Linked DNA regions of Homo sapiens: regions 1, 2, 3, 4 and 5 are each reported to be linked to region 6. The links are microRNA targets in miRTarBase. Many come from high-throughput screens and were not tested one by one. Region 6 holds a microRNA gene; each other region holds the end of a gene's coding sequence.
The links. The annotated mature microRNA hsa-miR-1224-3p reads CCCCACCUCCUCUCUCCUCAG and lies in region 6 at 1,799-1,819, opposite strand. An mRNA with a match to its seed (bases 2 to 7 or 8) in the 3' UTR can be bound and repressed. Matches are read on the target gene's strand: a 7mer-m8 pairs with bases 2 to 8, a 7mer-A1 pairs with bases 2 to 7 and ends in A, and an 8mer does both.

Region 1: miRTarBase lists GPAT4 as a target of hsa-miR-1224-3p. Seed matches in the 3' UTR shown: 7mer-m8 at 1,650-1,656 and 7mer-A1 at 2,673-2,679.
Region 2: the mRNA of SLCO3A1 is a reported target of hsa-miR-1224-3p. Seed matches in the 3' UTR shown: 7mer-m8 at 3,596-3,602, 7mer-m8 at 3,369-3,375 and 7mer-m8 at 2,498-2,504.
Region 3: the mRNA of WDFY2 is a reported target of hsa-miR-1224-3p. Seed matches in the 3' UTR shown: 8mer at 176-183.
Region 4: the mRNA of PBOV1 is a reported target of hsa-miR-1224-3p. Seed matches in the 3' UTR shown: 7mer-m8 at 2,237-2,243.
Region 5: the mRNA of GM2A is a reported target of hsa-miR-1224-3p. The part of its 3' UTR that is shown has no 7-base or 8-base seed match.

What each region holds. Positions count from the first base shown.
Region 1 is chr8:41,619,947-41,624,794 of GRCh38, forward strand. It overlaps GPAT4 (glycerol-3-phosphate acyltransferase 4), which reads left to right. Exons shown (of 13, transcript NM_178819.4): 13 at 947-4,848. The coding sequence ends at 1,055. Among named protein-coding and RNA genes, the nearest start is that of NKX6-3, 28 kb to the right of the region's middle. RefSeq lists an enhancer at 3,055-3,154.
Region 2 is chr15:92,162,388-92,167,235 of GRCh38, reverse strand. It overlaps SLCO3A1 (solute carrier organic anion transporter family member 3A1), which reads right to left. Exons shown (of 10, transcript NM_013272.4): 10 at 1,333-4,480. The coding sequence ends at 4,101. Among named protein-coding and RNA genes, the nearest start is that of ST8SIA2, 230 kb to the left of the region's middle. RefSeq lists an enhancer at 1,840-2,597.
Region 3 is chr13:51,758,901-51,763,748 of GRCh38, reverse strand. It overlaps WDFY2 (WD repeat and FYVE domain containing 2), which reads right to left. Exons shown (of 12, transcript NM_052950.4): 12 at 1-4,009. The coding sequence ends at 3,980. It also overlaps a transcript of DHRS12 not described here. Among named protein-coding and RNA genes, the nearest start is that of DHRS12, 43 kb to the left of the region's middle.
Region 4 is chr6:138,213,988-138,218,835 of GRCh38, forward strand. PBOV1 (prostate and breast cancer overexpressed 1) reads right to left here and starts at 4,504. Exons shown (of 1, transcript NM_021635.3): 1 at 1,999-4,504. The coding sequence starts at 4,408. The coding sequence ends at 4,001. All of the region lies in intron 4 of ARFGEF3 (ARFGEF family member 3), which reads left to right.
Region 5 is chr5:151,267,142-151,271,857 of GRCh38, forward strand. GM2A (ganglioside GM2 activator) reads left to right here. Exons shown (of 4, transcript NM_000405.5): 4 at 155-3,299. The coding sequence ends at 310. Among named protein-coding and RNA genes, the nearest start is that of GM2A, 16 kb to the left of the region's middle.
Region 6 is chr3:184,238,440-184,243,287 of GRCh38, reverse strand. MIR1224 (microRNA 1224) reads right to left here and starts at 1,883; the gene lies at 1,799-1,883. VWA5B2 (von Willebrand factor A domain containing 5B2) reads right to left here. Exons shown (of 20, transcript NM_001390846.1): 13 at 4,814-4,848; 14 at 4,415-4,725; 15 at 3,705-3,894; 16 at 3,252-3,599; 17 at 2,360-2,497; 18 at 2,181-2,264; 19 at 1,884-2,101; 20 at 959-1,798. The coding sequence ends at 1,250. ALG3 (ALG3 alpha-1,3- mannosyltransferase) reads left to right here. Exons shown (of 9, transcript NM_005787.6): 8 at 331-475; 9 at 612-987. The coding sequence ends at 774. RefSeq lists a silencer at 1,073-1,367.

The sequences.
Region 1 (4,848 bases), not on the chromosome of region 6:
ACAGTGTTCCCATTTTGCAGATGAGAAACTGAGACTCAAATCACTTTTTTCCAAAGTCATAACATTAGCACTGGAGCTAGATTTTGAACCCACATCTCACAGACTTTTAGAGCTTGAAGGTTTAACTTCTGCCCCATGTTCCCATCTCTGAAGTTTAACAAAGACAGAGTGGCTGCTTTTAAAATCTATGCCTTTGCTATGGATTTTAAAGGGTGTAGCGGAGAGACTGAAAGCGGGCTTGGATTTTTATAAGTTGTTGAAGGTGGTGATAATTCTAGAGTGTAGGCACGGAGGGGGCCAGCAGGCAAGAGGCAATGGGACTGTAATGAAACAATCCCAAGTCTGGTGGGTTGGTTTGGGGCTGCTGCAGGGAGGCACGGGGGCAGTGAGGCTGGAACTCTGAGAGGCAGCCCCGGAGGTAAACCTCCATTCCTGACGGCACTCTTTTTTTGAGCATGGAAGAAGTCAGAACACGCGTTACCCCTTGTGTTAGCTCTCTGCATGAGTTCAGAGTATCCCTGGGTCTGAATTAAACAAATGACATTTTACAGATAGATTTTACAGATACGTTATGAGTCGATATTTCTTAAAGCATGTCTACCTTCCATAATGCCAGAATTCCTCCTTTTCCTTTGTGAGGTGAAGATGAATGTTAGAGTAGAAAGAATTGTAAACTCCTTGGTAGGTTTAAGCAGTTATCAAGTACCTTGAATGTGAGTAGTAAATTCTCACCCAAGGGCAAGGGTAGACCTTTTGAGATAGAAAGGGTGGATATTGGGATCCCGGAGCCCCAAATCCCCTGAGGTTGTCTTGGTGAGAGTGCCACGGGGTACCCTGTTTCTGGCAGGTTTTTCTTGGTGTTTGGGCAGCATGGTGCATCTCCCATGGTGTGAGCGTGGCTGGGAGCCCTCTTGGCTGTTACTACATCCAGCCTTTGTCTCTCCAGGGATGGGGGCCTGAAGAGGGAGAAGGTGAAGGACACGTTCAAGGAGGAGCAGCAGAAGCTGTACAGCAAGATGATCGTGGGGAACCACAAGGACAGGAGCCGCTCCTGAGCCTGCCTCCAGCTGGCTGGGGCCACCGTGCGGGGTGCCAACGGGCTCAGAGCTGGAGTTGCCGCCGCCGCCCCCACTGCTGTGTCCTTTCCAGACTCCAGGGCTCCCCGGGCTGCTCTGGATCCCAGGACTCCGGCTTTCGCCGAGCCGCAGCGGGATCCCTGTGCACCCGGCGCAGCCTACCCTTGGTGGTCTAAACGGATGCTGCTGGGTGTTGCGACCCAGGACGAGATGCCTTGTTTCTTTTACAATAAGTCGTTGGAGGAATGCCATTAAAGTGAACTCCCCACCTTTGCACGCTGTGCGGGCTGAGTGGTTGGGGAGATGTGGCCATGGTCTTGTGCTAGAGATGGCGGTACAAGAGTCTGTTATGCAAGCCCGTGTGCCAGGGATGTGCTGGGGGCGGCCACCCGCTCTCCAGGAAAGGCACAGCTGAGGCACTGTGGCTGGCTTCGGCCTCAACATCGCCCCCAGCCTTGGAGCTCTGCAGACATGATAGGAAGGAAACTGTCATCTGCAGGGGCTTTCAGCAAAATGAAGGGTTAGATTTTTATGCTGCTGCTGATGGGGTTACTAAAGGGAGGGGAAGAGGCCAGGTGGGCCGCTGACTGGGCCATGGGGAGAACGTGTGTTCGTACTCCAGGCTAACCCTGAACTCCCCATGTGATGCGCGCTTTGTTGAATGTGTGTCTCGGTTTCCCCATCTGTAATATGAGTCGGGGGGAATGGTGGTGATTCCTACCTCACAGGGCTGTTGTGGGGATTAAAGTGCTGCGGGTGAGTGAAGGACACATCACGTTCAGTGTTTCAAGTACAGGCCCACAAAACGGGGCACGGCAGGCCTGAGCTCAGAGCTGCTGCACTGGGCTTTGGATTTGTTCTTGTGAGTAAATAAAACTGGCTGGTGAATGAACTGGGGGACTTCTCCCTTTACTTTCTCCCCTGGCTGTGGCCCTGAGTAGCAGGCTTCTCGTGAGGATTCCCGTTCTCTTCTGGGAGCATGGCCCTGGGGCTGCGGAGAAGCCAACTGACTGCTGGAGCGAGGAACCCTGCAGCTCAGAAGGTGAACAGCTCGTCTCAGATGCTTGCAGATCTTTGGTTAATTTAGAATTTCCAGCACAGACGTGGATTTCTCCAGAGACGGGGTGTGTGCGGGTCGCTGATGTGAGGCCTAGGGGAAGCAATGAGTAAACTCCAGGGTGGGGGAGGAGCAAGGGCCCGGGGAGGGCTGCAGAGGGGCCGGGGCGGGGCAGGGCCTGTGCTGCATGGTGGCTTCTGCAGGGGAGGGACAGGGGAGGGCTGCAGAGGGGCAGGGTGGGCAGGGCATGTGCTGCATGGCAGCTTCTGCACAGCCAGAGCAGGCACCACAGGAAAAGAGTCGGCCACTGGTGCCTGCTGTACAGTCACAGTGGAGGCAGAGCCAAGGCCAAGCAGCCCCTGTGGGTTCTGGGGTTTCACCAGTTTCATGCTCCTCAGCTCCCCATTCATGCCCCACCAGCCCTCACTTGGGACCCATGCTCCCTCGTGGCACAGTCATGATGCCTCTCAGGATTTTGTGCCTGTGGTGCTGAGTGTCACGTCCCCAAGGTCGCCCTCTGGCCTGCAGTTCAGGGAGTGGGTGGGAGTGAAGCTGTGCTCCTGGGGCTGCAGACAGATCCACTTTGCATGTGGTACCTGCTGGGTTGGCCCTGCAATCTCCTTTTCTCTGCACCTACCTGTGACCTCCCTGGGAGAGCCTCCCATTTCCTCACCTGCCCTGTTGCCAGCCCGGGGGAAATCTTTTTGCTCTCAAATGAAGACTGAAAAAATAAAGTCAGTGTTATGACTAATAAGTCTCTTAGGAACTGTTTTACAAAATGCTTAAGAATAAAAAGTGATTTTCAGCTTTTATAGGTGATGTTTACAGTGTTTGTAAACCAACTGGAGGGATCAGTAATTGGTCTTAAAAGATCAGGTTCTCTTTTAAAAAGTTCATCTGAAACTTTATGGTTTGTTACTTTCGTGATTTGCATAGGTATTTATATATACACACACACACAGGTTTTGCTTTTGTCTCACATTCAGCACAGCTGTCTGCGGCCCCTGCCGGCAGGTGTGGCCGCACCTGGTGTGAAGTCACGTGGAGTCAGTGCTGTGGAGGGAAGTCCTGTGCGGGCCGGGCAGTGAGGAGAGCACTGATTCACGCCTGCAGAAACGTAACCTCCCCTTTCCGTGTATGCCTTTTACCATCATCCAGGCGACTGCTCCATCCTTTTAAATTAGGGGTCCTGCAAGCCCCAAGTGACCCATAGTCAGAGTATCTGGTTTGGGGTAACCGAGTTGGTCTTATGGGGCAAAAACTCAAGACACTTAGAAACATGCAAAGTACAAAATAATGTGTTCCCTCCTGTTACCCCAGCAAGGGTGGGGCTGAGCTGGGAATGACACCCAGTGGTGTAATGAGTGGAAAGTGCTGGTCAGCTGCTAACCCCCCTCCAAGCCTGCTGCACCTTCACTTCTCTGCATCCGTCTCCTGAGTCATAACTAGGGACTTGGCTAGATGACCTCAGAGACCTCGTCCACCTCTGAATTCTCTGTTTTTAAGCCCATAGTTCAAACTTTGGCTTTGATCTCTGAAGTCTTCTGGGTTTGGAAATACGGGAAGTCAGCTTTGAATCCATTGCTTCTCTAAAACATCAGGGCTAGTGGAACTAACCCACTTGAGGGTGACCTCAAGGGCTTTAGGCAGCCATGGGGCTGGGGCCATACTGCTCTCAGGCTGGGCAGTATCTTCATTGTGGTTCTCAGACAGCCTTTTTTACTCAAACATGAGACTTTCCACCCACCAGTTAGGGAACTTTTTTTTTTTTTTTAAACACGGAGTTTCACTCTTGTTGCCCATGCTGGAGTGCAATGGCACAATCTCAGCTCCACTGCAACCTCTACCTCCCGGGTTCAAGTGATTCTTCTGCCTCAGCCTCCAAGTAGCTGAGATTACAGGCATGCACCACCACACCCAGCTAATTTTTTGTATTTAGTAGAGACTGGGTTTCACCATGTTGGTCAGGCTGGTCTCCAACTCCTGACCTCAGGTGATCCACTCTCCTTGGCCTCCCAAAGTTCTGGGATTACAGGCGTGAGCCACTGCGCCCAGCCAAGAGGGAACTTTTTAATAAAGCTAGTGGGATTCCCTTGACAGCAGAACCAGCCTTGGGACTTGATGCTTCACCGTGTCAGAATCCGTCCCTGGTGCTGCCTTTCAGAGAAGAGGCTTGATGTGTGAGGGGTCAGGGGGAGTGCTCCAGATCCCTGAAATGCCCTTCCCAGACCAGTGACAGGCATTTTTGGGTGCCATCGTGTGACCTTCACGGCACAGCAAACAGTGGGCACTAACCCTGTTGTCCTGTGGAAATCTGGGTCTCTGAATCCTGCCATTTCCTTCCTGGAATTGGCCAGGAACTTGATTTTCTGGGCTATTGCTTGCTAGTGTCCCCTGATGCATGAAGGATCCCCCCATGTCATAGGTCCCACCTGCCTGCTGTGCATCCCGGGTGGCCAGACTCGGCTTCTCCAGGTGCACTTGTCCCAGGTGGCCCGGTCCGTAGGCTGGAAGGGCAGCTGCAGGTGCACTGCCTCGCGGACAGGTTAGGATATGGCCACGCAGCCATCCATCTTCTACAGCACGCACACCCCACTCTCTCCCCCAGTCAATATGTCTCTCTCCGATGGGAAAGTTAATAAATTTTGCTCTAGATTAAAAGTATTGATCATTTCATTTGTAAACGATAAATAAAAAGGGGGAACTTTTCATTGC
Region 2 (4,848 bases), not on the chromosome of region 6:
TCTGGCTTCTGGCCAGATATGTGGTTCTCCCAAGCCATCAAGATAGTCAGGTAAGAATAGCACCAGGCAGCGGGAAGTATTCTCCATCTGTTAGACTGAAAAAACTGCATGGTTTCTTCCCTCATCTAAACCAAATCAAATAAAATATTCAAGCAACAATAAAATATAGCGTAACTCCGTCCAACTGCAACAGAAGCTCATCCTGTTTTTCTGGTCTTGACTGTATGATCAGATGCATTGACCTCTATGCACTGACCTTCATAGCTTGCCACTGCTGAGTAGGGCCTTTGGAGTTCCTAGCAGGGCTTAGAGCAGACTGCACAGGTCTGGCAGGCATGGCTGGGTGGAGAAGAAACCAGACTTCCTAGGACCGGAAGCAGCAGGCGGCAAGAAAACCAGCCCAGCAGGCACACGGGGACCCAGAAACTACTTTTCCTTGGAGGTTTTTCTATTTTAGTACATGTATCTATCTCCATTTTAAATGTTCCTCAGTGAATGACCTCCTCTGGAAGGTGTGAAAGAATATCCATTAGCAACCACAGGAGAATCTTTTTCCTGGGAAAATTCCTCAAGAGTGGTGTGACTACCATCCCAGGGACCAGCTGGTTGCCCTTGTGTGGAACGTTTCTGCAGGCTTTTTGACTGTAAGGGCTGGGAAGCCCTGCCATAGTGTGAGTGAGGGGAAGCTGGAGGGCAATTACTGGACACAGGGCAGTGGAATCGGGGGACTGGAATGTACAGATGACACTCAACCAATCTTTAAAAGTCAGCACTAGAGCGAGTTATTCCATGATCAGATGGTGAGAAGGAAGTGATTTTTATGGAGGGGCACGCTCCCTCCTGCTAGGAAGACGTTAGCAACCCTGTCAAATGATTCCTTAGGAGCTCCTGGCTTTCCAGTTATTATTTTGCCTGTTAAGTGTTCCTAGCAAGCTCCTCGGGGGGACCGTGAGAGGAGGCTGCTTCCACTCCTTCGCTAGCTGTGAGGAAAGCCCGCATGCCATGCTGTGGCCTTCTGGAGCCCTGTCCCCCAGGGTGCCTCAGAGCCAGCGTTCCCTGAGAGCACACAGCCTCAGCTGAGAGAAGACAGCAAACCCTGTCCCCTAGAGAGGCATTTTTGCAAAATGTGCTTACTTCATAGGAGGGAATGATATTGGTAGAAAAACAAAACAAAACAAAACAAAAAACAAAACAAAACCCAAACCTTCTTTGTCTCTACGTAGGAGTTACAAAGATCTGTCAATTTCAGCAGAGAGAGACTTTTCATCCACCCTGGGCATGTTCAGCTGAGATGGTGTAGGAGTTTGTAGCAGAAGAGAGAGAACTCTAGCATTCACTTTCTAGGTTTATTCCATCCCGTACATTTTTGTATTCTGTAAATCCAATGATCTTACCAGGAAATCTTTTCATTCACTTGAAACCAAACAGATAATCGAGGGGCTGGATCTAGTGTTGTATGTACAATGCTTCTTTAGAGCACAAAAGGCAAATTAAAACTAGACTGAGTTTTCTGTTCGGTACTATATGAGAATAATTAAAATTTTAAAAGACGACACAACAGAATTCAGAGCCATCCTGCAACAGCGGTCTTTAAATTTATACCCAATTGCTGATAAAACTCAGCCCTGGAGTTGTCTTCCTGTTATTCTAACATCTTTTTCACATTCATCCTAAAATCTTAGGAAAAAAAATCCAAAATGCAAAGAGTTTAAAAAACTTTCTTTTTTTTTTCTCTCAAAGCAAATAGTTCCATAAAACACTAGGTCAAAGGGCCTCAGTGTGTGTGTACTGAGTTTGAAGGGCCAAGCAATAATCTATAAGAGTGACCTATTAGCAATATATTTGCAAAACTAAACCAAAATCTGTACAGGATATTATCAAAGCCTTAGGAACAACAGAACATACATATTTTATGAAGTGGTTGGAGAACCATCTCCCCTTTAGTAGTTAACGTACTGATGAGTGTCCCCATTTTCATAAGCAAGGACATACTAACACTAAGCAGTTGAAAGGCCTGTCTCAGAAGCATCCTGCCCCAGGTAGCTGATCACGGTGGCCCCATACCACGACACAGCTTTTCTTTTGGTTGGTCTTGCTGAGTGCCTTCTCTAGATTTGGGCTGTCATTCAAGCCTCTTCATTTACAATGTTCATTAAAAATTCGGTACCATACCTGTCCCACTCCCAACCATTTTTTACTTCCTGATTCTTTTGTTTGCCTTGTGGGTAAAATGCAAATGTGTCCAAGGTGAAAAAGCAAACCAATCAACCTTTGAGTTTTTTTTCCAGCGCCAGGAATGTGACATGAACAAAGGTCACTGAAGCAGCATGAGGAGTAAGTTAGCAGGGCCCTTTGTTGTGTGTGTATGAGTGTGTGCCTTTACCTAAGCTCTGTCCCCTTACAGAAATGGCCGTAGAAGGCCTAGTGTGCTGGTTGCGAGAGGTTTTCCAACGTGATTCTTACCCCAAATCATAACAGGTTCATTCTCTGAGGTTCACCCACCTTCAAAACACACAGACAAGGGCCTTAGTTCAAGACTAACACTGAAAATGTCACAGACATTTTCACGCATTGGACACACGACAGCTTCCAGGAGCTTGTGGGTCTATTCGTTATCAGAGATGCTACAGACTTCTTAACAGCTTGTGTTAGGGAACTGTTCTTCTTTCCTATCCCCGGAAGTGTTGCACCCATACACACAAACCCACATCTAAGAGTGTCTCCTCCACAGGCTGAAAAGAACGCCTCTTGGAATGTCAAGCATGAATATAAAAGGGTTTCCCGTGACAGTGATCACTGAATCATGGGGAAGGAAGCTAAAAGGCAAATTTGCAATTCATCACATTATCCCCTGTTGTCTCAAATGTGATTCTTTTAAAGGCAGGCTGCATATACACTCTCTTTTTGAAGCATTTTTTTTTCTTCTTGTAACACATTGTATATTCTTGTTTTTGTAGAATATTCGAATGAGGATAAAATGATGAAAATTACAATAGGTTAATTGCATCCCTTGTATCACATATTTTTGGTGCATTAAAAAAGGAGAAAAAAAGTAAAAGCAACCAGCATAATAAATCCGGCCTAGAGAACTGTGTTAGTGACTTGAAGGGTTAACACAGATTTTAGAAGTAGTTAAAAATAGTATTAGAGGATTATACATACAACAGTTTGAAATTCATATGGATTGTATTTTTTTCTTTTAAAAATGGCAAAATGTTTTTGGCAAATGTAAGCAAATGACTTGGACTGCGTTGGGTCTCACCAGCTCTGAGCCGGGTCAGTCATAGCCAGGCGAGGCCTACTGCTTCCTGAGGTCACTCTGTGGGGCTGGGGGAAGGTGGATGCCCGCCACTGGGAGGTGCTGGCCCCCCACCTGGCTCCCCCTCAGGCCCTCAGTCTTGAACATGGAAATGGAGCTGGTGAGAGGTGCCAATTACAAACTCCAGCACGGATCACCCATTAGCATCACTGAGAGAACTCTGGGGCCTTGAACCACATGCAGACTGGGTGAGTCGTCTACACAGTGACCCATATTGCGAAAGTCAGAGAGAGGAGTGGTGCTTCCACCCCTCCGACTTGTGCGCCCGCCCCCACCCCCACCTGGAGGAAGAGGGTGGCACGGGGTGTGTCACTAGTGCTTAATCTGGCAATGTTTTCAACTTGTGGGTTTTTTTTTTTTAATTTTTTTTATTTTAGGAAACTTCTTTTAAAAAATGTTTTCTGTTTTGTATGTGTATGTGTATCCAGAAATGTCCATCCTCCAAGCTGGCCACCACTGTTCCCTGAATTTGGCAGTGCCTGTTGCTTGCAGCTGTCAGCATCCTGAAAACCATGAGGTGCCTTCAAAGTAGACTCTGTGGCCCAGCCGCGCAAGTGGCCTCCAGGACCCTGCCGCACGATGTCATTCTCTCCTTATTCTGAATCCTGTCTGGCTCTGATGCTGAGAAAAAGGACAAAGTCGGTGTGTCTGTCTGCGTGTGTGTGCATCTGTGCCTGTGTGTGTGTACTGAGTTTTGGTTTTTTTTGGAACCTTTTTTTCTTTTTTTAAGAAAAAAATGACCCTTGGATTACTAATACAGAGTTCAGCCCTCCTTTAGTCACTATAAAACGGACTCCATGTTTTCACACCACTCATGGTCTTCCAGGTTATAGATAAACTTTGTCCTATGTGTCTGGTTTGCGGGCACAGGGTCCCTCCCCAGGTTGTCTAGGGTCAGAGTAGAGGCAAAGAACTCACTGGTGCTCAGCCCGCCCTCGTGGTTTTTGATGTAGCGTTTATAGTTTTTCCTCAGGCACTGCCACGTGGTGGTGTACAGGATGAAGGCGAAGGATTTGAGCGCGATGGCGATGCTGACATACAGGTATCGGTAGACCACATTGTCGTAGAGGACGCAGGCGCCTTGCTCCCCACAGAACGTGCTCCAGAACAGGCAGGTGGAGTCGATGCCAGCCCCGAAGATGAGGGGTGGAGGGATGAAGCCTGTTACCGGGAAAAGAATGTTAAGGTTCTGGATCTGGTGGCCAGTGCTCCCCTGTTCCTGTCTCTGCCTAGCTTTTCTTATAGCACTGCTAGGCAAATATGTCTGACTCCGTGGCTCAAAGACATGCTCAGGAGGCAAAGCGCATGAGTTTGTGTCCCAGTTCTGCCTTTTTATTATGGTACAAATCTGAGCAAGTTATTTAAGCCCTCCTGCCTTAGTTTCCTCATCTGCAAAATGGGGATGATGATAATACTACAGTCTTCACCAGATGGCTGTGAAGACTAACTTTACACATAGAAAGCATCAGTCTGGCATGGTGGCTCACACCTGTAATTCCAGCACTTTGGGAGGCTGAAGCAGGTGGATC
Region 3 (4,848 bases), not on the chromosome of region 6:
ATAGCTCACTGCATCCTTGAATTCCTGGGCTCGAGTGATCCTCCCGCCTCAGCTTCCTGAGTAGCTGGGAATACAGGTGTGTGCCACCACACCCAACTAAGTTTTGAATTTTTGGTAGTGACAGGATCTTGCTGTGTGGCCCAGGCTGGTCTTGAACTCCTGGGCTCAGCAATCCTCCCACCTTGTCCTCCCAAAGTGTTCAGATTATAGGTGTGAGCCATGGCACCTGGCCTTTACTTTTATAAAATGAATCTCAGAAAATGAAAATGTGATATTCCATAAGGGCAGTGCTGTAAGCCTGGGAATCGCAGCCAAACGGGGCAGGGTGAATTTTAAGTGCCACTGGATTTCCATTTCAGTTTTGCCTCTGGGGTGGTCTGAGGGGAATGTATAGGAAGGAATTTATGTGGATGAAGGCAATAATTACCTCCCCCACCACAGGGCCGGAGCCAAAAAAACTGTCATATATGCTTTCGATAAGAGGAACAAAGCTGGTTCCAGAGAGCGCCCTGTCTCAAGGTGCTGAAAGTCTCTCCTCCCACTCATGCCATTACTAAGTAATGTTCAAAAACAGCTATTCCTTGAACATTCTTTTAGATTCTCTTGTTTACATCTCAGCCATATCTAACTGCCCTGTATAACTAATGTGTTTTCTGCTTGAAACACTCTAGATCTCTGAAGATCCCTTCCAGTTTTGTGACTTTATGATTTCTGGAAATAATTAAAACCAAATGAGAAACACGTTATGGTGGATTGACCCCATACAAAATGACATAAGATTCCAAATGCTTAATCTCAAACCATTTTGCTATTGTGAAGATACACTCAGGCAGTAATGTCAAGTAATGTCATTCGTTTGGAGGAACCAAGAACATGTGGTTGGTTTTGCCCCATCAGGTAGAGAACAACTCTGCGTATGATATGTGTAGATCTGCCACTTTCTCAGCGCAGGCATGTTAGGCATTATTTGTAAAAGCTGCTATATGTTTAAGTAATAGAGCAAAAATATATGTAAAGTGCAAATCCAACAGGGTAAAACAAGAATTATGAGAGTTCACCTAGACAGAACAAGAGCCAAGTGCTGGCGCCAGCTTTTACTCCTAAGGAATGGAGCCTCCATTTCCATAAAATGCTTGGAAGACACCCAACACCAGCACATATTTCTCTACAAATTACAAAAATGGGGGAGACACTTAATGCAAAACGCAAGAATTCACAGTATTACAAACACACAGTTGGTTTGCTAAACGCATTTCACCAAATTCAAGCACCCACACAGATGAGAGAAAAGGAAAGAGCAATGGATACCTTGACATATCTGGTTTTCTGATGATGATTCTCAACACCAGTGGGCTGTGAAGTGGCTTCAGCCTCTGAGTGGCTCTGTGGGCTGGGAGGGAGAAGGTAGAGTGGCGTGCAAGGTCACAGGCCAGAGCGACTGTAGAGGACATATGTGATCTGACGGGGACACTCTGCTTCCCGAATGAGGTCTGAACGCATCTAGACCCATCTCAGAACCCATACAGGCTTGCTGGGCGCCTGGGCCTTTGCTGCCCTAATACTGTGTTCCTCTCTCTGCCGGCAGGCCAAGCTCAAAGTTTAGGAAGGGAAAATGGAGTGATTCAGCTCTATTACTCATTTCCAACACACAGTCCTATATTACATACAACTTAGTAAGTGGCTGCAGCTTCTAGTAATAAACTACAAAATAGATATTTGAATATTTTAAATTTAATTCCCTTGTTAAAGTTCTCTCAAAGAGCAATCATGCAGAAAAGACTCAAAGTAGTTACAACAGTTTTGACTGACGCAAGCAAGGGTAGTCTGGACCAGGGCAGCGAGGCGACAAGTGCTAACAGCCTGTGCGGGGCATGCGTGTGTGCCTCTTCAGAGCTCCGGTCACATGGGCTGAGCCGGTCTGATGGCTCAAGTGACAGCTTCCATGTACCGTGGCTGCATGGGGCACATGCACTGGTCCTGCTTCCCAATGCTGGGGCAGCAGAATCACCTCTAGCAAGGCCCCATCCCAGGGAAACACACGTAGGGGCAGTACCTGAGGACAGCTTGTAGTACTTCCCCCTAGTTAGAGAAGTAATGAATGATTGTGAGGGCAAAAAACGGCTTTCCAGGAAAAGAGGGAAAATAATAGGGAGGATTTCAATTTCACTCCCATGTGTATTACTGCCAAAAAACCTGTAAAATCAGAAGAGAGCAAGACACTGTGGGGTGGGGCTTGGGTCGGGAAGGACAAGCAATTGGCCTGTGATCCTCAAGAGACTGGTGAGCTCCCTGATGCTCCCGACACGTGAGGTTGAATGAGCTGTGCGTGTAAAGTGCTTAGGAGGGGCAGGCACCTGGCGCAGGCTTGCCATTAATTTTTATTCTATTTTTACAGGTGAAAATAAGATTTTTAAAAGGGACTTCAATATCCTGAGCTGAATCACTACACACAAGAATATTTCATTTTCTCAAGCTTGACTGGATTCCCTTAGAAATAAGAGTTCTTCAGGTTCACTTTCTAAAGTCCTCTTTTCCATTCCCACAGAAACATAGCCTGCACTGTAGGTACCATTCTGTCTCGGACCACCCACATACCGTTTTAGTAAGAAAGTGTGCAAAGTGTTCTGATGAAACACATTAGGATAAAATGTTTAAATATCTAGTTTTTAAAGGGATAGAATACAGAGGGCGAGGAATACAGCAGGATTACAATCTTGCCGTAATGAACATGTTCAAGTTCAGAGATGATGTCACACAGAAAAACACAACTTAAAGACACTTATTTTCAGAGCATGTATGGTGGGGGTCCCCAACCCTGGGCTGCAGATGGGTACTGGTCCATAGCCTGTGAGGAATGGGGGCACCCATCAGACGTGAGCAGTGGGCAAGCAAGTGTTACTGCCTGGGCTCCGCCTCCCATCAGATCAGCGGTGGCGTCAGATTCTCACAGGAGCAGAAACTCTATTGTGAACTGCGCATGCGAGGGATTTAGGTTGCGTGCTCCTTATGAGAAGCTAATGCCTGCTGATCCGAGGTGGAACAGTTTCATTTTGAAACCGGTCCCTGCTGCCAACAAGGTTGAGGGCCGCTGATGTAGGATTTTGTGTGTGTGTCATTTGTTTTCATTGTTACGAGTGAGGGAGAGCTGCGTCAAAAAAGCTAAAACAAGAGGCTCAGGAGGCTCCAACTGAATTCTAAATGATCCAGGCACTGATCGTTGAAGCTCTGAGTTAAAATAATCTACTTCTGTGATAACCATGGTTGGGAGCAGCTTTCTCACAGCATTTTTTTTTTTAATGTGGGAAAGACAGAGGCAACTGAGGCAGAAACACAGTCTTTTCTACTTCATAAGAACGTGAATGAGGCAGACATTACAAACAAATCGCTCTTCAGGCAATTCCAGCAGCTGGCTGGTGAATCCACATGATGAGTTTCCAAATCTCTCCACTGAGGAGGACATGAAAGCAGAAACACTGGGAATAAATAACATAAATACATCCCCTCCAGGAAAGGCAGAGAAGGTGCAGGTAGGTGCAGAGGGAAGAGAAGAAAAAGCCGCTGGCCACGTGACACATGTTGAAGTAAACACAGAAAGTATAATGACCAAAATACTCTGAGTAGATACCTCCCTTATTTCTCTGACAAAGCAACAAGTAAAATGGGGTGTTGAAAAGTATAAAAATTAAACACCCCACACAGATTTTTCGGTACACTCAAAACAATGCAGCACAGCCAGACTGTATAAACCATTTGTTAAAAAAATAGCTTCTTTTATATTGTATGAACAAGTTGGAAGAGTCCCCTTGCGAGTGCTCACTGGCCAGGTCCCCACTGTGCACATGGGTAATCTGCAAATTCATTCAGGGTCTTTAGTTTCTTTCTTACTTCTCACATGTCTGCTTTACCACTCTGGTAATGATTTGGGTTAAAACAACCGTTTCTTTAGTAAATACTATCTTTCTGATTCCTGGGAGAGTCATCAAGACACGACTGGGGTCATATCCCACAACTGCAAAAAGAAAAAGAAGATACAGAATGAACTAAAATTGTGTTGAGGATAACAGTCCTTAGAACTGAATTCTTCAAGGAAATTTTTTTCATTTAACAAACCACCACATACTATACTAACATGATTTCCAAATCTGTAAAATATTTTTTTCATCAAAAAAGTTCAAATAAAGCTCAAAAACAAGACAATGACAGCTTGAAATTTTGATGCAGCTCATGAAGAATCATGGCAGATTCAATCTATTAATGGCTGAGAGGACTGGGAAGACAAGCTACACTGCAGATCCTCCTGTGAGTCACTAAAAGGGAAATGCTGCAGAGCACTGTGTTTACATCTGAGGCAGCATTCGATGAGCCAACATGAAAGCGACAATATAGATTTGTTCCACCCTCCAAATAGATTGAATCCATTAAATAACTCAATCCATTAACTGGACGCCAAGCACGTGCTGTGTCCTTTCCATTTAAACTTCCAAACCATTTTACAAGATACCTCGTTTTCAAAAATAAAGGACCTGAGGCTGCCAGAGTTTATCCTATTTTAATTAATTAATTATTTTGAGACAGGGTCTTGCTCTGTCACCCAGGCTGGAGTACAGTGGCACAATCATGGCTCACTGCAGCCTCGACTTACTGGGCTCAAGTAATTCTTGCACGTCAGCCTCCCAAGTAGCTGGACTACAGGCAGGAACCACCACGTCTGGCTAATTTTTGATTTTTTTGTTAAGACAGGGTCACACTATGGTGGCCAGGCTGGTCTTGAACTCCTGGGGTCAAGTGATCCTCCGTCTCACCTCCCAAAGGGCTGGGATTATAGGCGTGAGTCAACACACCCAGCCC
Region 4 (4,848 bases), not on the chromosome of region 6:
TATAGAGATTGGTTCACAGTGTAGACTTTCTGGCTTAGAATAATAAGTTTTATCCCTCTTCTCTCTGAATGAGGAATTTCTATATCAACTTTTTAATAATCTCCAGAAGCCAACACCCTTTATCTTATAATTCGGTAATACTTGTAATGATCCAGGTAAAGCCTCTTAAATAAGTCCTTGTTTTGCTAATACCATTACTGTATTAAATGCTTTTACTGTATTCTCCCAAAAATTATAGAAGAGAGAATTAGATGAGTCCCCAGAGAAAAGACTGGATTTCCATTACATCTGAAGGGTATGTTAATTTAGTCTTGGCACTTCTACATGACTCATTCTGATGATAAATTATTTAAGAAATTTCCTATAAAAATCTTCCAGTCATTTTATATAAGTATTTTGTAGGCACAGAAAACCTTTTAAAACAAGATATGGTGGACATCTTCAAATGTTGGTCTGGATATGCTATTCAGGAGGGATAAGGCCACACCATGCAGTTTTTATTTGTCTGTCCGACCACAGCATAGCACGTTGTTATAACGGATCCTAGGTGTTATTTTTTAGAAGTTAGATCATGCGTTTTATTCACATATTGGTATCTGTTAGTGCTTATAAACATGGAAGATTGAACCATGTCACACTCTAAAGTGTATGGAACAATTGTATTAAATTTCTGGAAAGAAAATAATATAGTTTCCTTTTTGTAGAGATTTCTCCAAGATTAAACAGAAACGGGCCAATAATGAAATCCAATATTCCAAGGATAGTATTCTCATTTAGAAAGAAGACTTTCAATCAGAGGGTTAAAAAAAATCAGTGAAGCCTGCTTCTGACAAATAGGAATGAGGTTAAATCACTTAGTCTAGGAACTATTCTACATGGTTTTACTATTTAACAGGAAGGGGAGAAAAGGCAAGTTTGATTTATTGAAATGGCTATGGAACCCAAAGAAAAGTTTTACAGCTTGAGCAAACAATAAATGGTCAGAACTGTACAGAATCAGAAAGAGGCTCTGAAGATAGATTACCTTGGAAATGGATTAGTAGACTATTGAATATTTAGGTTAAATACTTGTCTGCTTTGGCAACATTTTCCTATGGTGTGTGCTATTTCCATAAATGCCAGGCAGATTGTATAGGAGCCATGTACGGATCTAATGACTTCTCTGACGAGAGTAGTTAGGACTTGTTTCCCTTCTTTCTGATGGATAACCTTTAGTGAGGTTATTAACTGATACAGCTGGCTGAGTCTTCAAAGGCTGCCGAATGGAATTATGGCTGGCTGTTCGCCTCTGTAAGCATGTGGGAGATGTGGGCATCCTATCTGGGGAGGGCAGGCTGGCTTTGGCGATAAGGAAGGAGATGATGCTGGACACTGAGAGAGCATTTGATGAATATTCTATTACTGGGTGTCTTTTTTATGTGCATTTTTAGATAATAGAAGTGAATATTCGTAGAGTGCTTTGCAATTTTTAAAGGAGAAATGACAGGGGCTTATCATTTAACATTTTTTATGCACCAGACATATTGATACTAAGGTCACACAGCTAGTGAAATGACCAGGGCAGTATTCAGCCTGGAGTTAAACCTGTGCTCTTAAGTGGTGGGTTACCTTGCCTGCCAAGTCTATCCTGAGAGGCTTGTGGGTGCTAGTCACTGCTATTCTTCTTGTGTAGATGATGGAGCAGAAAAGCCAAGTCACAGGCTAAGGAGGGGTAAAACTAGGAGTGGCTCAGAGTCCTGTGTGGTTTCTGTGTCTTCCCGTGATAATGATATTCCCTCACTAGTCCTGTGAGCTAAATTCACATATGAAGAAGGAATCTAAGTGTCTTTTCCACTAAGTTAGCTAATCGGTCTGGTGTGTGTGTGTGTGTGTGTGTGTGTGTGTGTGTGTGTGTGTGTGTGAAAGAGAGAGAGAGAGAGAGAGAGTGTTGGGGAAAGGGAAAGAGTGTAATTTACCATTGGTTTTTTGGTTTTTTGGTTTTTTGTTGTTGTTGTTTTTTTTTTTGGGTGGGGGGGAGTTTTACTCCTGTTGCCCAGGCTGGAGTGCAATAGTGCAATCTCAGCTCACCGCAACCTCCACCTTCCGGGTTCAAGCAATTCTCCGCCTCAGCCTCCTGAGTAGCTGGGATTACAGGCATGTGCCACCACGCCCGGCTAATTTTTTGTGTTTTTAGTAGAGATGGGGGTTCCACCATGCTGGTCAGGCTGGTCTCGAACTCCCGACCTCAGGTGATCCACCCACCTCCCAAAGTGCTGGGATTACAGGCGTGAGCCACCGTGCCTGGCCGGGGTATTTTTATATAACAAACGCCTAGTAAACATCTATAGAAAATACACAGATGAGTGAATCGTGGACAGAGTTTACTATTTGTATGGCTGGTAGTCCTAAGCTTCAGGGTGTCCAATTAGAGTTCTGGTATTACAAAGTGGAAGGGAGTGTGCTTTTAAATTATGTATCAGTACTGTCGTCAGTGCCTTGGTCTGGGAGCAAGAAACACGACAAAGGAAGAAAGACTGTTTGAGTCCCCTCTCGGTAATGTTTTAATGGCAGAGTCTTACACTTGGGAAGTTTCTTCAGATGGTTAGTTTTGATGTTCTTAACTCGGGGCATTTGGTCTTCTAGAGTTCCTTTTGGAAAGAATGTGATCATTAGTGAAGTTTGAGAGTGAAATGGCTAATTTGTCTTGCTGCTTATAACAGGGAGAAATCTCTTCTTAGCCTGAAGCCATTGAGACCCTTCAGAAGATTTGTAGCAATCTCTAGCGTTAAGGAAAAATCCAATGTTTGATGAAAAATATTTAACTCCTGAATGTGTCGTTGTTGGAGGTTGATCTAACAAGTTTGCAAACATATTGTTTGTGCAGTTAATGCAGGGAAGTGTCTAAAATATGTGGTTCTGCTAAGTAAATGGTTCTCAAACAGCCTTCCCTCTTCCTGCTCATAAGGTTGAGTGATGAGAATCTTTTTCTACTTTGCAAACAGACTAATATAATTCTTACTGAGTTTTCCTCCCATCTTTCTTTACCCTTTGATATGACTGCCTTCAGCAGATGGTAAAAATATATGAAAAAGTAATGAACAAACATTGAAAGCCTGGAGATGTGATTTTCCTTTAAATAGTTTATGCATTATTTTTGAGATGGAGATTTTCATATTATCTATTAATATCTTTTTAAAGCACCACCATTTCCAAGTGTTTACTATATTTCAAAATCACTCTACTAAGTGTCTTTAAACTTTTCTCACATAATCTTAATTTAAGCGCATATAAATGCAGAGGCCCTCATCACTTACTCTGGATGTTCTATAGATCCAAACAGAATGGGAAAGTTCTCTGATTTTTTAATCATTTATTCAGCAAATATTTGATTGTTTTCTATGTGTCAGGCACTGTGCTGGGCACAGAAGATCCCATAGTGAAGAAAACAAAACCAAAGAAAAACACAATCTGTGTTTGGAGGCCAATGATAGAGTCAGAAATCAATTAAATATATAAATACACTAGTCCCCACTTATCCAAAGTTTCACTTTCCTTGGTTTCCATTACACATTGTAATGTCTCCTCAACTCTTGACTCAGGCATGACTTGAACATTTCACTAGTTACTAAGCGAAAATTAGTGGTATACTATAAGTATTGTTTTTATCCCTCTGGTGCCTAGCGGAGCATCTGGCACATGGCTTACTAATTGCTCGTTAGTTTAGTTATTGACTAATGGAGAGACAGAAACACATGTGGTAGTTTTTAATGGCCCACTAGGATAAATAACAAACTAAATTGAGATAATAGATAATAATCTATGAGTTCAAGATTGAGAAAGATCAACATGGGTTTGTATTTTAGAATTGAAATAACCTCCTACATCATCAAATTCTTTTCATAAGTAAATTGAAGTTGGAATGGTTCAGTTACTTGGCTGGGCTTAAACAGTCATTGGTAGCAGAATTGCCTTTTCAACCATTTTTATTTTTCTGGAAAGGCTTTGCAGCAGGGCTGAGAGTTTATATGATCTGTGGATGTATAGTTTTGGATAAGTAGAGAAGACAGCATTCCAGACCTAGGGTCTGAGTTAACTGCAAAGTCAATGTGAATAATATGGCTTCTGAAGATAATGAGGAACATTTCATTGAGGAACCTTTCATGGTCAAGTGTGTCTGCAAGGGTGTGAGAATTGCATGGTGTGACTGTTCTATGGAATAATCAATGAACTCTGTTGCCTTTTGACTTCTTTTTACTTTTTCTTTTTTTCGAAATACCTTGTAGCAGAATGGTAAGAGCACAGTTTCTGGAGCTAGAATGCCTGGTAGCCTTGGGAAGTTACTTAATCTGTGCCTCAATTTTCTGATCTGTAAAATGTGAATAATATTGTGCATATCCTCATATTTCTGGTTCCTTAAGAAGGCCCTCATATTTACTACTGTAAATTGAATTGTAGCTCTGTAGCATAGAAGAATAATTTTGTAAATTATTATACATCAATTAGCCACCTCGATATATTTAAGGTCCTAACCATCAGCCATGATTCCACAATCTAAGGAAAACACCCACTCTTTAGCTGAGCCAATGTTTCTGTTCCATCCTACGAGGTAGAGTTTTATGATTTGATTATTCCAGAAGAGCTCTGTAATTATTGTTTCAGATGTAGAGAATCAGGTTGGCTGTAGCCCTTTAACAACCCTATCTTGAGGAGCTTGCTTGGTCAGGTCTATAAGTATAAACAATAAAACTATCAAAAGTTCTGTGTTTGTATGGGCAGAGACAATTTGAGATGAGGCTCTCATTCTGCAGAGAGTCTGAGAGGGAAAGAGAAAAGGAAGGAGTGAGGGTGTTATCTGGGGCATACCAATGA
Region 5 (4,716 bases), not on the chromosome of region 6:
CTCTACAGTGCTATGGCCGTCTCTCATCTTGTGCGGCTGTTTTGAGAATGGGAAGAGGGGTGGTAGTTCATGGCTGCAATCCTAGCAGTGGCTCTAGGAGAAAGACCCCATCAGTAGGCTCCCACTGACTGGCGGTCCACTGGCTTTCCCGCAGGGAACCTACTCACTGCCCAAGAGCGAATTCGTTGTGCCTGACCTGGAGCTGCCCAGTTGGCTCACCACCGGGAACTACCGCATAGAGAGCGTCCTGAGCAGCAGTGGGAAGCGTCTGGGCTGCATCAAGATCGCTGCCTCTCTAAAGGGCATATAACATGGCATCTGCCACAGCAGAATGGAGCGGTGTGAGGAAGGTCCCTTTTCCTCTGTTTTGTGTTTGCCAAGGCCAAACTCCCACTCTCTGCCCCCCTTTAATCCCCTTTCTACAGTGAGTCCACTACCCTCACTGAAAATCATTTTGTACCACTTACATTTTAGGCTGGGGCAAGCAGCCCTGACCTAAGGGAGAATGAGTTGGACAGTTCTTGATAGCCCAGGGCATCTGCTGGGCTGACCACGTTACTCATCCCCGTTAACATTCTCTCTAAAGAGCCTCGTTCATTTCCAAAGCAGTTAAGGAATGGGAACCAGAGTGTTTTAGGACCTGAAGAATCTTTATGACTCTCTCTCTTTCACTCTTTTTTTTTTTTGTCACTAAGTTAAAAGCGAAGTGAGAGTATTAACGTTTTTGTTCTCCTCCGGCCCCCTGTTACAATGAAGGGGCAAAAGTATTTGCTCTTAGTCTATTCCTCCCTTAACTTCTGTGACTAATTTTTATTTCCTTTCTAGATTTGCCCAATTAATACTAGGGTGCAGTGTATCCTGGAGAGGTAGGGTGTGTGGGGGAGGAATCCCTTGGGGGAGATATTAGGAGTGCTCTGTTGTTTACAAACTCAGGTACCCGCAGGGCCTAGCAAGAGACTTAAATGACTGATAAGAACCGTGAGAAACATGTTGCTTCCAGGCTTGATTTCGATTTTTCGCTTTTTTTTTTTTTGAGACAGAATCTCACTTTGTCACCAGGCTGGAGTGCAGTGGTGCAATCTCACCTCACTGCAACCTCCGCCTCCTGGGTTCAAGCAATTCTCCTGCCTCAGCCTCCCAAGTAGCTTGGACTACAGGCCCTGCCACCACGCCCGGCTAATTTGTGTATTTTTAGTAGAGATGGGGTTTCACCATGTTGGCCAGGATGGTCTCGATCTCTTGACCTCGTGATCTGTCCACCTTGGCCTTGCAAAGCGCTGGATTACAGGCATGAGCCACTACACCCAGCCGATTTTTCCTTTTTGATTAAAGATGCTATTACAATGTAAATATTTCTTACACAGAAAGTCACAGCACATGTGCCCATTGATACAAGGCTGCTGAGGCCTGGTCTCCAGTTGGAAATATAATTAAGGGTGGCAAGGACTGGAGTCAGTTGGAGAGTGCATAGCCAGTCTGTGAAGACAACTGCCAGATACTGGCAATACTCCAGCCTGGTGACAGAGTGAGACTCTGTCTCAAAAAAAAAGTTTCAATGTTTACTCCTAGAGAAGCCAAAAATCCAGATTTGTATATGAAATCTTACCATTTTAAAAGATTGGCAGCTAATTATTTTTTTAAAAAGCTGTGCAGTGTGATGTGTCCCAAACGGACTGGCTCATGGGTGGCCACGTCACAACCTCTGATCTCAGACCGTGCATGCCTTGTCCTCTTAAGACAACTCCTGTGGCACCGTTTCTCCCTCCACAGGGCCAAAGCCATAGTGTCCGGTCCCAAGGACAAGGCTCTTCCAGTGCTAGGAGAGGTATGAGCAGCCTCTCACCTGTGAGCTGTGGGGATCACAAGGCTGCCTGCCTCAGTCTTGGAGTCCTGTTGGGTGAATGAGGCAGATGGGAAAGAGCCTCACCAGCAGCTGCTTTTGGAGCAGGGGTCCAAGGAAGAGAGGGTGGCCTCGACATCAAACTGCCTGGATTTTTCTACCACCCTGTTACATCATAACAACTTCTGAAACACACACCAGCCCTGAGTTCTGGGCTCATTTGAAGCCTGGAATAGCAATAAATCTTTTTAACTTGCGGACAGTTTCCCCTTGCCTTGGCTGCATATTTCACTGATCACATCTCAGGATTTCAAAAGCATTTTTGGGGTGGGGCTCTTTTGGTTGGAAGGGTTTGTTGGAACGGTACAGGTGAGCCGAGGTGATTCCAGGGACGGACCCTTCTGCAGGAGCTTGAGCTTGCTTGTTGTCTCTGCTTCATCGCCATCCAGCTCCCTTGTTTGCTATTTTGCTTTCCATCACATCATGACTGCGGAGAGCAAAAATCACCTAGTGACCATTGAACAGGTCCCAGAGACAAAATCTTTTTATCTGAGGAATTTAAAAGGGAGCAAAGACCACCTGGTGACTATCAGGCCATGCAGAGGCAAAACGCCTTATTTGGGGAAAATTAAAAGTAATTAGACTTTCCTATTATCTAAAGCAGGCATCTGGTTCCAGATTTCTTTTCCCCGAAAAAAACCTTAGAAGTAACTAAAATTTCTGTACATCTCCGGAATGCCATGCTGAAACTCACTGCAACCCCACGGTCCCGCTTTAAGGTCCATAAATATCCCTAAGGAAAAATCCACCGTGGTACATTCAGTCCTCTCACCGAGGTGCCCCATGGCAGTCTTCTGCAGCATTCTTCTAATACCTTTCCTTTTTCAAACCTATACTGTTGTTGGTGAATTCTTTTTACCAACCCACGAGTTGACCACTTCCCAATGCCGGGGATCTGACACCTCACCTGGCAATGACCTCCACAGCCGTTTCCCTCTGTTGGATCTTCCAGCCTTATTCTCAACAGTTCATTTTTAGTTCACATTCTTGACCGAATCTCAGTAGCTCAGTTAATCTTTTTATGTCTGCTCTGCTCTTGGGTCATATGTTCCGTGAGGTTTCTTAGGGGTGGGGGATGAGGAGTTAAAGGTGGCATCTTCAATCGCAGGTCAAAGCAGACTTTAATAAATGGTGCTGAGCCAACTGGAAAGCCCCTTGGAGAAAGTTGAAGTTAGACCTGTACTTCACACCATATGCAAGAATGAACTCCATCTGGATCCAGGATCCAAATGTAAGAAAATGAAGCCATATAAATACAGAAGGAAACGTGGTGGAAATATCCAGTGGCAACAAAATATTGACACATTTGACTACATGAAGATAATAAAAATGCTTAGTAAAAACACAATAAAATCAAATGACTGGGAGAAAAATTTATCCAGCCTATATAATAGACAAACAGTTAGTGTTCTTACTATATAAGGAATTAAAAATTAAGGGACAAAGGACCAAAAACTTGATAGAAAAACTGGGAAAAGACATGAACATACTCACGTAAAGATATAAAAATGGCTCTTTAAAATGAAATATTCAAACTAACTCATTAGAGAAATGTAAATTGAGATAATACTGAGATACCATTTATCATCTCTAAGACTGGTGAAAGAAAGAACAACACATTTCTGTTAGGCAAGGCTATAGGGAAACACACTGTCATCACTGTTGGTAGGAATGCAAACTGGTATGACTTCTGGAGGGGAATTTGTCAGTACTTAACAAATTGCAGAAGCATTTACCCTTTGACACAACCATTTCCACTGTGGGAATTTCCCTTGAAGATGCACCTCCAACAGTACAAACATACAGATGCACAAGATTACTCATTGCAGCACTGAGACTGCAAATATTGGAAGCAAAGTCATGTTCATATACACGAGAAAGCCTGAGTAAACCATGGCACCAATGGCATACCCACATGATGGAATATTATTGAGCTATAAAAAAAATGAGGAAGATCTCTATGAATCGGTATAGTTATTTTCAAGATATATTAAATGCAAAAAGCAAAGTACAAAAAGTAGAAAGTGGTACTTTGTATGTAAGAAAGAAGGAGATGTAAGAAAGCACATGTATCTATTTGTTTATGCAAAGTAAATAAGGAAAGATTGGCCAGAAAGTAATGAGCTGTCTATGGATGGTAGGTGGGTTTAGAGTAGAAAGAAGGGAGAAATCATAACGGTGTAAAGGAGGAAGGGATGGAACACTGCCGAGTGTATCTGAGTATATTTTGTATAACTGTGAGTCTTGGAGCCATAGTAATGTTTCTCATGCCCCCCAAAATAATTAAAGTCAACCAGGATATGAGGAGAGTTCAAAATGAAATACAAACAGTAACAAATGAACTTAACTGTATTTCAGATGCATAATACAACCACATTGAAGGAGGTGGGCAAGAAAAATAAGAAGTTATAGCATTTTGATGGGATACTAGAAAGAGAAAAGGAACTGTACACAAATACCAGAGTCTAGTTAGCAAATTTTTCACAGAAGCAGAAGTTAGTAATTCAGGAAGTATTTTATGTGTGTATTAGGATGGGGAAAACAAATATATGGTAGGTAATGAGAACATGGGGGACATATTGAAAGGACACAGGAACCAAATTGAATGTCCCTCAGTGGCCAAATCTTGGGCAATTTGAGCAATAAAATAATGACAATAATGGGTTATAGTCCACTGACTAAAAATACACTATAGAATCCCATACACAATGGAATCACAAATGTAGAAGGAACGATAGAAATAGAAAAAATGGCTGGGTGCAGTGGCTCACGCCTGTAGTCCCAGCACTTTGGGAGGCCAAGGCGGGTGGATCATC
Region 6 (4,848 bases):
ACCCCGAGACAGGGAGGTACACTTACATTTACTATTCTCATTTTACAGATGGAAAAATTAAGACTTCATGAGGTTAAGTAACTTACCAAGGTCACACAGCCAGTAAGTTAGGGGTTCAAACCCACAAGACCTTATGGCCCTAGGTATTACTCTCTCCATATTCCATATTTGGTTGAGGAGCAGGTCCAGAGAGGTTAATAAACTTGCCCAAAGGCATGCATCAAGGAATGGCAGAGCCAGAGGGCTATGTGACCTAAAAACTATTGCCCCTCTGTTTTGGGATAGTCCCCCCCACACACACTCCTGCCCTTGGCCTTGACCACCGCATACAGATCGTTTCTACCCTCTTCACCTCCAACTTCATTGGCATCTGCTTCAGCCGCTCCCTCCACTACCAGTTCTACGTCTGGTATTTCCACACACTGCCCTACCTCCTGTGGGCCATGCCTGCACGCTGGCTCACACACCTGCTCAGGTACCAGCTGGGACAACCTGGGGGAGTGGGAAGGGATAGGGAGTTCCTGTTGGGGGTTTATGTCTAGGGCATGAGGAGCTGCAGGTCTGCAGGCCTTGCAACTGGATGAAACGTGGAACCTGTTTCTCATCTCCAGGTTGTTGGTGCTGGGGCTCATCGAGCTCTCCTGGAACACATACCCTTCCACATCCTGCAGCTCTGCTGCCCTGCACATATGCCATGCCGTCATCCTGCTGCAGCTCTGGCTGGGCCCGCAGCCTTTCCCCAAGAGCACCCAACACAGCAAGAAAGCCCACTGAAGTCCACCCCTTTCCCTCAGGACCTGAGTCTACCCTCAGGACCTGGGGTTGGTTGGACTCTGCCCTTCCAAATAAACCTTGCTAAGTCCAACTCTGTGCAACCTACATGGAGGTGGGGGCAGCCGATGCCTGGTCCAGGCTGTGAGGGACACGTATGGAGCAGATAAAGAATTCACTCAAGCAGTCCTAAGAGGCACTTTATTGCATAGGATTTGGGGACTGTGGCTCTCTACCCTTCCACTGTGTTGCAGGGAGCTCAGAGGATGGAGGGGAGTGTGAGTGGGGTGGGAGGAGAGGGAGAGAGCACAGGCAGGCACTTTTTGTGGGGGCAAGAGGGCTCTAGGGAGGGAGTAAGAAGCAGTGGGGGACAGGCTGGCACCAGCCTACACTTTCCCAGCACCAAGAGGCCAGCCCTGGGCGGCAGTGACTTGAGTGTGTTGGGTGGGGCGCCAGCCCAAGCAGCAGGGGGCAGCCTTCACACGTTCGCTGGGCTGTAGCACAGCAGGTGTAGCTGCAGGTTTTGGTCCCAGTGGCGCAGTAGCAGGAAGAGCCCTCGGGCTGCGGCCTTGAGGGCGGCCAGGTCAAGGCCGTCAGGCAAGTGCTGGGCCCGCAGCCAGCAATCAGCCTTGGCCGCTGTCAGTTCCCACTCGTCGAAGGCAGCGGCGCATCGGTGCTCCAGCCAGGCGAGTGCTACGGCAGTGGCCCAGGTCCGGCCCCGCAGGTCGGTGCCGCCCAGCCCTTCCGCCCCCTCGGAGGCCTCGGTGTCTGAGCCCCGCCCACTGTCCACCTGGCCTGGCCCCTCAGAGCCCGAGCTGGGGGACGGGCTGCAGGAGGCCGTGGCACTGTCACCCTGGCCAACACCAGGGCCCAGAAGTGCCCAGGGCAATGAGGCCGAGGTGGGGCTGAGGCTGGCGCGGTGCACGGCAAAGGGCGAGGCACGGCAGAGGCGCTCCTGCGAGATGCGCACAGCGGCGCAGAAGGGCGCGTCCAGGCGGAAGGAGCCTGGTGCCTCCTGCAGCCGCACCTGAGGAGAGAGGAGGTGGGGGGAGAAGCGAGCTGAAACAGCGCCCGGCCCCGGCGGCACCACCCTCCACCTCCCGAGTCCTCACCAAGGGCAGGTAGTCATGGTCGCTGCCTTCACTGTTGTTGGCCTGGCCCGGGTCAGGGCTACAGAGTTTGTGACGGCGGCCCATGCTGAGCCGACAGGGAGGACGGGGAGGTGGGCGGCGAGGACCTTCCGTGGGAGTGGCAGGGTCCCCCAAAGCACGCTTGGAGTTGCCATTTTGGTCCGAGTCCCAGGCGCCTGCTGGAGAGCCTCTCTGAAGTCCTGCAGTGGGGATCATCAGTGCCAGGGGGCGGTCTCTAAGCCCAAGTGCCCCTACCCTTTCCCTACCTTTGGGTGTTACCTTTAGAGTAGACAACAGTGGGCAGAGGAGCTGCATCTAGATGGCTGTGAGAGGCAGGAGGGGTTCCTGGGGGCTCAGCGGGCTCTGCAGGGGCACATGGGACAGGAGTCAGGTTTGTCCAGGAGAGTGGCCAGTGAGGTGAGAGCTGCACCTGAGAGGTCACCAGAAGAGGCCCCTACCTGAGCTGCACACCTGCAGGGCCCCAGGCAGGACCTCCCTAGTAGTAGCATCCACAGCTACAGGGCAAGTGAAGCAGGAGGGGGCAGAGCTGACCTTACTTGTCTGAAGGGCTCGAAGCCAGCACCTCCGGGCATGGCCTGTGGAACCAAGGAGCAGTCTGTGGAGCCCCCACCACCCACCCTCTACAGAGGGCTCATAGAAAAAATTGCAGTGTTCTCCCCAGCTTCTCCCTCTATCGACTTTAACAGAGTAGATTGCCTTGCTAGGCCCAGAACCAGCTCAGACTCCCCAACTTTGACAAGAAGTGATCAGGCTGAATCTTCAACCCATAGCAGAGCAAGAGCCCCCTGGCTGCCCAGAAATTCAGCACTCTGGACAACACCCAGAGGAAGCATTAGCTGGCACATTTTCCTCCACCTGCTTCTGCACTAATAAAACTTGGAAATGTTCTCTCTCTTCATGATCCAATGTGGTAGCCACTAGTCACATTTGACTATTGAGTACTTCAGCTGTGGTTAGTGCAACTGAGGAAATGAACTTTAAGTATTTTCCTAAATGACAAAGATTTGTTTTTACGTTGTGGGTGCTGTGAATCATGACAGGATCACGTTGCCCTCTGTGCTGGCTGCTAGGAAGCTTGTCAGTTCTGGATCTGATCCTTGCAAGAGTATATAACCTCACAGCATGCACCTTTAATATAACCTCATTCTCAGTTTCCTTTTATTTTTACTTTTTCCCATTGTCCCGCTTAATTTTTTATCTTGTCTGTGATGAGCCTCAAATCCTTTGTGATCAAAGCGAGGTATAGAGAGTGATCAAACACACAGACCTCTACCTTTGCTGTTTTTAGCCCATGCCTTTGGGTCCTGACTGGACCCATGAGCAACTCACCCCGGTCAGCTGTGGTCTCTGCCCCTCCTCGGAGGGCCAGCTGCTCATTGTCCCGGACCACAGAGGCTGCTGTCAGCCGATGGAGTGCTTGGTCCCAAGCAGCTTCTCTTACAGGAGGTGAGGGAGGCTGTGAGCCATCTCCAGGTCCCCACAGTGTCTCCAGCCCAACACCCACCTCCCAGCACATGGGCTGCTCCCCACACAGGCCCCGGATCACCACATGGCAGCGTGGAGCCTGGGGAGGCACTGCTGGAGGGGCCAACTCCCCACTAGGAGGCACAGCCGTGAATAAGAAGGGTGGTTCCATCAGCATGTCCCAGTCCATAGGGGCTGGGGAGAGCAGGTTTCCTGGGGAGGCAAGACAGCAGGGGCATGGGCAGAGTGGTCCTCTGGGCTTTACCTCCCCAAGGCCTCTTTGGTGTCAGGGAAACCAGCTCCCCATCCAACACTTACCTGAGTCATCCAGGCCTTGTCCCAACTGTTGGCCTGGCTCAGGACTTGGGCCATCTAGTATTGCACCCAAAGAGGGTTTCCGGGGTCGGCCGGGGACTTGGTTTGCCCGGCCTGGAGGGGATGAGAGGCTTCGGCCAGCCAGAGCCGCTCTGTGCTGACGGCCCAGCACCTCAGTACTCAAGGCCCCCACCTGCATGTGAGATATGGGGGCCACTGGTCAAGGAATGCAGAACCCTTGACCATCATACATGGGTGCACAGCTGGCCCATGCCCCTTTTCTGAAACCCTGGGTGGCCGCTCACCAGCTTGAGGAGGAAGGCCAAGTTCCTTATGGCCTACAGTGACCTCTGGCCTTGGCCCCTTCCCAGCATCATCCCACTCCACTCCCTATTTCCCACTTGTGGTTGTTGCTTGTCTCTGTATTTTCGTTTATGTCTTCTCCCTCTCTGCATGGCTAACTCGTGCTTATTCTTCCAGATATGGCTCTGACTTTCCTGACTCTCTCAGGCAGAATTAGTCACCCTGACTTTAAGCCCCCTTAATACATGTCCTTGTGCTCATCACTGGTTGTTACATGGTATCGTTGGGGATTTACCCACCTTTCTCTCTAGCTAGACTTAATAGTAAACTCTACATAATATCTGGTGCACAGCAGGTGGTAAATAAATATTTGCTGGATACAAGGCGAATGAATGTGGGTTGGATCTCACCTTGAATGGAGCTGGTGTGGGTGCAGGCAGGGGACAGGAGCGGGAGCCTGCAGGTTCTCCCCAGGCCAGACTGCGGCAGCCCTGCTGAGAAGGGGGCTCCAAGGGAGCACTACCTTCGGGGGAGCCAGGGCCCTGTGAGCCTGGGGACTCACTGCTGCCTGTGGAGCCTGGGCCTGGCTCGGGGCTGGCAGAGCAGTGGGTGAGCACATACTGCTCCCGAATGTACGAGGACTGAAAGATGCGGCGCCATATGGCTGTGTCAGAGGGGTTGGGTCCAGGATCCGTGACTGGGTCTGTCAGAGCATCAGTACCTGCTGGGAGGCAGTAGAATGGGCCCTAGCCCTGACCCCTCCCAGCGCCCACTCCAATACAGCCACACACATACACCTGGGCACTCACTCTGCTCCGAGTCCCTGGCAGCCCATGGGCTGGAC